2 separate regions of the Homo sapiens genome follow, and region 1 is linked to region 2. Evidence: fine-mapped expression QTL. A gene starts in region 2. The other region holds a variant in brackets. All regions are shown on one strand. Distances are from middle to middle. Region 1 overlaps TANGO2 (transport and golgi organization 2 homolog). Region 2 holds the start of TANGO2 (transport and golgi organization 2 homolog).

Region 1 (4,327 bases), 44 kb before region 2:
TCCTGAGCTCAAGCAGTCCTCCTGCCTCAGCCTCCCAAGGTGCTGGGATTATAGGCATGAGCCACTGTATCCAGCCTAAATGTTCCTCTTTTTATAAGGATAGCCGTCATATTGGATTAGGGCCCACACTAACGACCTCATTCTACCTTGGTTACCCCTGGAAGAACCCTATCTCCAAATGCAGTCACATTCTGAGGTACTGTGGGTCAGGACACTGATATATCTCTTTGGGGACACAACTCATAACACCAATAGAATCACCATTGAGGGCTGTTCTTCCTTAGGGGCCTCAGGCTGCTGGGGAGCCCTGGGCAGGGTGGGGGCAGAGGGACCCACACAAGAGCAGAGACTGCTCTTCCTGGGCAGGCCGGGTCTCTGGGCAGAGGTGAACATCCGGGGGGCTCTTCATGAGGGCAGGGCACCATCCAGGTTGGGGACTGGCACTGGTCACCGGCACAGGACATGGTAGCCACTGGGGCAGGTGAATGTGTTGGCAGCAAGGGCAGTGCCCCCAGCCGGGAGCCTGTTGTCCTGACTCAGAGGACACGTATGGGATGTGGGGCCTCAGTTTCTCCTCAGGCCTGGGGGTGCAGCCTGGGTCGCAGCTGGGAAACTCTTCTGAGTTCAAAGTGAGCCATGGAAGGCTCTGAGCCCAGCAAAGTGGTCTGGGCAAGAAGGGGAAGAGACGGGGAGGCCCCTGCTCCTCCCTAGGTGGACTCACATCATGTCACAATCAGGCTGGGAAGCCCTGGCGCAGGTCCACACCCACCCTGCACTCTCATGGGTCTGAAAAGGCCAAGTTAGGGGTTGGGTGCAGAGGCTTAGAAAAGTCTAGGTCTCAGCATTGGATATCCGGGACCCCCTTATACTCGGCCAGGCTCAGGGATGAAGCTCCTTAGAGCTGGCCCCAAACCAGGAGCTCCTGGGGCTGAGACAGATGCAGACCTGCTCTCCTGCCCCTCCTACCATCCCCTGGCCCCCATCATCCAACAGAAGTCCAGGCCAGCCTGCCTCCCGCTCCAGTGGGGCCTCCATTGCGACCTGATAGACCTGTATGGGTGGCTGGCCCCATAATCAGCATCTACCACATCCCACGCGCATGGGGTCTCTCACAGCGGCCCCTGCCCATGGACAGATGGACTGACCCACAGGCATCCACATGTGGTGCTGAAGAAGCCGTGAGGAAAGGGGGAGGTGGGAAGGGCCTCGTCCAGGGTGTCTGGCTGCACAGGAGACATAGCAGCTCCCACTGGCACCCTGCATACAAGGGAAAGGCCTCGAAATGCGCTCACCAAAGCCTCAGAGTTTTATTATCAGGAGCTCACATTCAGGTACAGATTCCTATGAAGTTTGCCTCACCTGGAGGGAAGAGGGAGAGAGCAGGGCTGGCTGAGATGGGGCTGCCAGAGGCATGGTCTCCAGCTGGGTAAGCGGGATTCTGAGAGCCCCTGGTGCACACGGAGCCTCCTGGCACACACAGGATTGTCTCAAACACAGAGGACCTCTGGCACACTCAAGGGCACTGAATCTAGCAATGAGTCTGCACTTCTGTTATGAGAGTGGGTTTTTCGGCCAGGCGTGGTGGCTCACGCCTGTAATCCCAGCACTTTGGGAGGCCGAGGCAGGTGGATCACCACGTCAGGAGTTCAAGACCAGCCTGACCAACATGGTGAAACCCCGTCTCTACTAAAAACACAAAAATTAGCTGGGCATGGTGGCACACGCCTGTAATCCCAGCTAATCAGGAGGCTGGGGCAGGAGAATTGCTTGAACTTGGGAGGCGGAGGTTGCAGTGAGCCGAGATCGTGCCACTGCACTCCAGCCTGGGTGACAGAGCAAGACTCCGTCTCAAAAAAAAAAAAAAGAGAGAGTGGGTTTTTCTCAGGTCTTCTCGGTGCCCAATTCCAAATGTGGCTGTCTCCTCTGCAGGAGCAGGTCTGCTTGTCAAGAGTCCAAGCACGCCTGTGTTCTGTGGCCACAGGAGAGGAGGGGCCGCTTTTAAATACAAGCCTACTCCTGTCGTTGGACCAGAACAAAGACCTACTGGCCAGAAGCACATGAGAGGTGAGAGTCGCCCTTCTGCCTTGTTCGGCATCGTGTGTGTGCACCTGTGTGTGTGTGTCTGTGCAACTGTGCATGTGTGCACATGTGTAGCACACCTGTGCACGTACATGTGCCTGTGTCGGTGTCCATGTATATGGCTTGCATGTGTGTGCTTGTGCACACGCAGGAGTGTATGTGTGTGCCATGT[G/T]AGTGCCTGTGTACATGTGCAAGAGTGGGCTCAGGTGTATCCACATGTTCATGGTATACCTCGGCCGGTCCTAGACCTAGTATCAGACTCTGCTGCTCCTCACTGGCATAAAGGCAGACCCTGAACTGGGCATGGGGACACAGATGGGTAACACGCAAACCACAGGGCCCTGATCCGGGGGATGCTGGCCAAGCCACGGGCAGTGCAATGCAGTATGGCAAAGGAAGGTTTCCTGTCCACAGTGCCCCTCAAGGCAGGGCCCCCCAGGAGCCCACTGGCCAGGCCCAGAGGTGGGGTTAGCTCTGCAGTGTGAACTCATAGGTTCTGGTCTCCCAGTGGGAGAGGTCCTTGTCCATCATGCTACGCTCAGTGAAGGTCACGTGGCCGTCCGCATCTACCAGGATGATAGTGTTGGTTCTGAAAGAGAGCAGGGGCCCTCGTTCACCTGGTGTCCCTCAGCCCTGCCCTGCCTGTCACAGCCACAAATAGGGCAAGAATGCAGGCAGGTAGAGTTAGGAACCCCATGCCTGGAGGCTGTGCCAAGTCACAGAGAGCAGCAGCCTCAGTCTTGGGGATGATGAGGGGCCATCAGTGGCGTGTGAGCTCTTGGCTGGCTCCACAGGCCCACACTTGCTGAGTCCTGCCACCTTCACTGGGAACCACCCCACCCTGCCCTGCTCTCCCCGTGTAGCATGAGCCAAGGCATAGGGCAGCCTGCGGGCTGACCACACACTTCCCCTTTGGAGGCCCAGGTTCCCAGACACAGCCATGCTTGGTTCTTCCAAGAGGTCAAGCTGTTGACCACTTGGGGCCCAGGCCTCCTCTGTCTGGAAGGCTTCCCTCCTGTGCCCTCTCTTCCACTGCCCAGGCCATGCCAGCCCACCTGAAGCAAACATTCAGCACACTCTCCTCTCCTCCAACCCTCTCTGCCGTGGGCTTTGCAGACGGAGGGTGGCCCTGGATCCCCCAACAGCCCCAGCACAGGCTGGTTCCCAGGGCAGACACATACGCAGTGCACCCCGTGGGGTGGGACCCAGCGGCTATGCGGCCTGCCAGGGAGTGGAGTTGGCACTTGCCTTCCCCTCACACACAGGAAGATGAGCCTATGACAGAGGAGGGGCTGAAGGAAATGACACCCTGCACCTGCCAATGGGCCAGCCAGCCCCAGGCAGGAAAGGCTGGCCAGCAGCCACCACCCAAGGGTACAGCCTGCAGGCCTAGTGCCATGGTGCCGGGGCGTTTGCCCGCAGGGATCCACCAATGTGCAGGCAGCCCTGAAGCCATCCTGGCCCTGTGTGGCTGTGTACTGGCTCCTTAAGCCCAGCCTGTGGGGCCCCGGGAGCCTGTGGTATCTGCTCACCCTGCAGCTGCGTCTGGACAGGGCAGAAGCTCTGGAATCCACTCAGGCGAGGAAGAAGCCTGGCTCTGGCTATGGGCACTTGGCTTCTTTGCCGGCCCTCTAGCGTGGGAGGTGGGACATGGGATAGGAGGTGGCGCACCCACGGTGCTGCAATACCTGGTGCCGTAGCCAGGGCAGCGCACGCACACAGCCGCGTACTTGCTCAGCATGGGCTGCACGTACTCCCCACCCTGGTCCTCGATGGCCGGGTCTGGCAGCTGCCTGCAGGATGGAGAGAAGTGGTGGCCATTAGTCCCTCTGTGGCCCGCCCGCAGCCGGGTCTAGCCCCAGCCCACCTGGTGGCCTAACTGGCTCTGGGGAGTGGCCGGGGAACTGCAAGGGTTGTTTCTTTTCTTCTTTTCTTTTTCCTCTTCTCTTCTCTTTTCTCTTATTTTCTTTTTTTGAGGAGGAGTTTCACTCTTGTCGCCCAGACTAGAGCGCAATGGTACGATCTTGGCTCACTGCAACTTCCACCTCCCGAGTTCAAGCAATTCTCCTGACAGAAGTCCACTCAAGCCAGCCATTGTAGCTAGCATCGGGGCTCCAGCCGTCAGCTGGGATTACAGGCGTGCACCACCCAGCCATCTAATTTTGTGTTTTTAGTAGAGACAGAGTTTCACCATGTTGACCAAGTTGGTTTTGACCTCCTGACCTCAGGTGATCCGCCCACCTCGGCT
Region 2 (4,378 bases):
CTTGTTTTCACGGAGCCCATCCTCATGGTAGGGATAGGCTTGTTTTCAAGACAGCCCAAGCCCTATGGTAGGGGCCAACAAAGGCCAGGCTCTGCCATGCTGCTGCCATGTGCTGACTGACACGTCACCAAAGGATGGGCCCTGCTTCTCATGCATCTGGAGTGTCAATGACAAGCATGGCCCTACTTCGAGAAGTCTTCCCAGCCTCCCTATCCCGGGCCATTTCTCTCCAGACCCCTTCTGGGGTCCCTGAGAAGCCCCTCATATCCCTGTGGGTGTTTTCAGAAGCAGCACCCTTGGGTGGGCACCGGGGTGCCCTCCAAGTTCGCCGTCTGGCGCAGAAGCCGGGCACAGGATCAAGTTCCCAGGACACTGCACGTGATTCCACACACTGCAAAACGTAATCAGAATGACAGCCCACAAGTGAAGACCAAGGAAGCACAAGAGGCTGGGCAGCCCAGGAAGAGCTGACAGCTGGTCACCTTAGCTCAGGGAAGGGCTATGGCCACCACACATCACAGCAGGCAGGGGCTTGGTCTGAGGGGCCTGCAGTCTGAGGACATGCAAGTAACACAAAGCTGTGTAGGGGTCAAAGGGGGTGGGGGCACCAGGGCACCCTACCCTGGACCACCAGAGCACTAGGATCCTGTGGGAACAGAGGCTCTGCTGTGTCCATCTAACAACATGGTCACCCTCTCCAGCTGCTCCCAGCCCACCCAACACAGACGCAGGACACAGACACAGGGACACTCCTAAGAGAGTGGCCCAGGAGTAGTAGAGGCACTGGGAGCAGGCCCTGGCTCTGAATGACCTTGGGAACACGATCTGCCACCTTAGCCTGAGTTTTCCTTGTATGAGCAGGACTGGATCAATGAATGCTTGCCCCAAAAGGCTGCCCAGAGGCAAATGAGCTAGCGTGAGAAAGCCTTCCAAAGAGCTACTCAGCTACCCCCTTATAGCTGCCGTCACATCTGCCTCATGGAAGAGGGCACTGTGCCCAGAGTGGCAGCAAAACAGTGGTCAGCAGGTCTAGAGCCACACGACAGTGCAAACAGGCCTGGCCAGGGCAGGGCATGTGACATTCCTGAAGAGGAAGGGGGCCTGAGGCCCAGGGACTTGTCCAAGGGCAGACGGTTCACTCTAAAGCTTGTGGTCCAGCAGGAAGCCAAGGGAGCACAGGAGAGGTGCTAGGGGCAGGGAAGGTGGGGGTCTCAGCAAACAGCCCTCTGTGCCCACTTCCTAGAGGAAAACGGGCAAAGCCCAGGCTGCTACAAAGCCCAGCGGTGGGGCAAGGACTGCCCTGAGTGCAGCCCTGCCAGCCCCTACCTCTGACGCTCTGGAGTTGGGGGTGGGGGATCTAACTACCCAAACCTCCCCAGGAAGGCCGCATCCAGGCGCAGGGATGACCCAGCACTTACTATCTACTCACACCCACATTAGCTGTCACCCTGCTGGCCCGCAGCAGGCCGCGGGTAGGGGGCAGAGTGACCGGGCGCCAGAGCTGTCCCTGATGCTGGCCAAGGCCGAGCAGCCCACACACCCTGCAGGGACCACGCAGCTCCCAACCCTGCCGATCTCAGCCTCCCCGCAGCGAGTCTGGTCCCACCTGCCAGAGTCCCTCGCATCCCGTGCCAGCGGGGATTATCAAAAACACCTTCCAGTAACGCGCGGGGCATTTTCGTCGGCCGGGATCGACGTGGTTGCCCCTGACCCAGCCGCCTGATTCTATACCATACCTCAGAAAGGGGAAACTGAGGCAGGGTGAGGAAGTGCGGCCAGCCCACCCACCTTCAAGCAGCCTGGCCCGGTCCGCGCACCCAGAGCCCAGAGCCCGGAGCCCCCGAGCCCAGGCCGGCCGGGCCACTAGCGGAGTCGGCCAGCCCCGGAGCCGCGCACTCACCGCCTCCGCCACCGCCGCCGACTTCCGGGTGCCGCGCCCGCGCGCCACCGCAGCCAGCCCAGTACCGCCCAGCCCGAAGCCGGCGCGTTCACCATTGGGCCGCGCAGCGAGGGGCGGGGCGGCGCGCCGCATGCCGGCGTCCCGTTGGCTGGGCGCGCTGTCGCTCGGAGGCTGCCACCTCCTGGCGCCCCGCCCCCGGGGCTGCGCCAAAGCTTCGGGCTGCGCGGGCGTCTGAGCGCTTCCTGATCCAGCGGCCTTCGGGGACTCCGCGGCTCCCTGCCTGCAGGGACGCCATGGGAGGTCGCAGCCGCCCCTGAGTCCATGCCCTCATGGACACCATCTGTCACCTGCTCACCCTGCGGCCTCTCTCGGAAGAGGTACAGGAATGCTCACTTCCGGACTGGCCCCCTCAGACTGCGTCCTGGTCTCCCCATCCTGTTCACTCAACCCCACCTCTGGACCTGGCCATCTTCCTCTTGGTCATCCCTTCCTTCACTTTATGGCCTCCAGGTCGGCTCTTTCCTCCCTGATGTCCCTGCCATTCCCAGTATGTACCCCCAGACCCTGGACTAGGCATTTGAGCACTATACCCTGCACACCCACCACCTCCCCCACTTCCACCCCCCAGTGTAGCCTTTGAGCTCACATCCAGGTCCAGGCCCCAGCGACGAGGGGCTGGCCCAGCTTGACTTGTGCAGGGTGAGCAGGTGGGCACTGACTGGGGCCCTCCCAACAGGACAGAGGCATTAGCTGGGACCGCTGCTCCTGTAGCCTCTGGGCTGTGCCTGGGCCTATGTGGCAGAAAGGTGGAGAGTCAAAGCCCAGAGGCTCAGGCCCTGCCTCAAAGTGAGCATTCAAAAAACTATGACATGGATGACAAAGACATTAGGGATAATGATAATGTGTAAAGCACTCTAAACCCAATGTCTGGGTCAGCAGTTCTTTCATCCCACTTTATAGATGTAAACACTGAGACTTGGAGCAGTTATGTCATTCAGTTGAAGTTGAAAAAGGTGGCAAGCAAGAGAGGCCACATTAGCTTCAACCTGTGTTGAAGACCTAGGTGCCCTGATGCCCTGCAGAAAACTGGGGCTCAGGGATGGGAAGAGCCTGGCTGGTAATCAGCAACGGCAAGAGTCTAACCTGGACCTACATGCGGGCCCGTTGTGCTCCACACTTTTGCTATCTTATCTGTGTTTCCCCTGGAACCCAACAGAACCTTTTACAAGGACTCCAGATGCCCAGGGACTCATGGCCAGCGGGCCGCAGACCCAGCCAGACATGGTTGTCTCTCCCACCATCCAGCAGTGGGATCATGTGGGGCTGGTACCAGTGATTTCCCTCTGAGCAGCCAAACCTATGCAATCTATAGGGCCAAGAGGTGGTGGTGGTGGACAAGTGGGATCTGGGGCTTGGGGGTGATGGACTGTGCCCTGGGGTTCATGGCAGCACCTGGAGAATGGGCTTCCCCAAAGCACCAGGCCATGCACCTCAAAGCTGGACATGAGTTGACCAAGGTTTCCCTTTGCCCACAAAGAGGGATGCAGTAACATGTCAGATGGTGGTTTGCATCCTGTTCTGTCATACCTTGTGGCCTTGGGCCATCCCCACCCCCAGCCATACTTTTCCCAGCTAGACAGAGCCAGAGCAGACACTCTGATCTTCTTTGTCACCACTGACACTCCAGTCTGGATGACATGCGATGCCAGGAAGCAGGTGACGGCAGATGAAATGGGTCTAGGATGGGCACCTAAGCCCTGGGATCTTGGGGCTGCAACAGGCTCACTGGCATCCAACCTCTAATTGCACACAAACTCAGATAGGAAGCTCACTACCTTCTGTGGCCACTCTTTTGATTTCAACAGCTGCCACTCTTGAAAAGTTCTTGACACCCAGCTGAAAGCATTTTCTCTCTGTGGCTTTCTCCGGGGGCCTCACAGCTGTCCGCATGGAGCTAGGTGAGAGGATGAGAGAGGGAGAACACTGGGCTACTGGTCCCTGTGGTCTCCCTTGCTGTGTTTTTCTTATCTTTTTCTTTTTTCCTTTTTTTTGAGATGGAGTCTCGCTCTGTCTCCTAGGCTGCCGTGCGGTGGTGCAATTTCAGCTCACTGCAACCTCCGCCTCCCAGGTTCAAGCGATCTCCTGCCTCAGCCTCCCAAGTAGCTGGGACTATGGGCGTCTACCACCATGCCCCGCTACTTTTTTTTGTATTCTTTTAGTAGAGATGGGGTTTTGCTATGTTGGCCAGGCTGGTCTCGAACTCCTGACCTCTGGTGATTTGCCTGCCTTGGCCTCCCAAAGTGCTGGGATTACAGGCATGAGCCACTGCGCCCAGCCTCCCTTGTTGTGTTTCTGACCCCTGGCTGCAGCCTAATGGGCCGACTGCTGGACAGCGGTCCTGAGTCCTGTTTGAATTGGTGCTGCCCCGACATCCTCTGACCTCAGCTAATGATCCTGCCTGCCGAGGGCAGACAGGTC

Evidence for each region.
Region 1: its variant is fine-mapped to the expression of TANGO2 in whole blood (TOPMed, PIP above 0.99).

The regions. Positions count from the first base shown.
Region 1 is chr22:20,062,883-20,067,209 of GRCh38, reverse strand. TANGO2 (transport and golgi organization 2 homolog) reads right to left here. Exons shown (of 9, transcript NM_152906.7): 8 at 3,768-3,872; 9 at 46-2,668. The coding sequence ends at 2,548. Among named protein-coding and RNA genes, the nearest start is that of DGCR8, 15 kb to the left of the region's middle. RefSeq lists an enhancer at 602-1,102. The variant G/T (reference allele first, on the strand shown) is at 2,252.
Region 2 is chr22:20,018,657-20,023,034 of GRCh38, reverse strand. It overlaps TANGO2 (transport and golgi organization 2 homolog), which reads right to left and starts at 1,925. Exons shown (of 9, transcript NM_152906.7): 1 at 1,789-1,925. RefSeq lists an enhancer at 1,123-1,172 and a silencer at 1,773-2,162.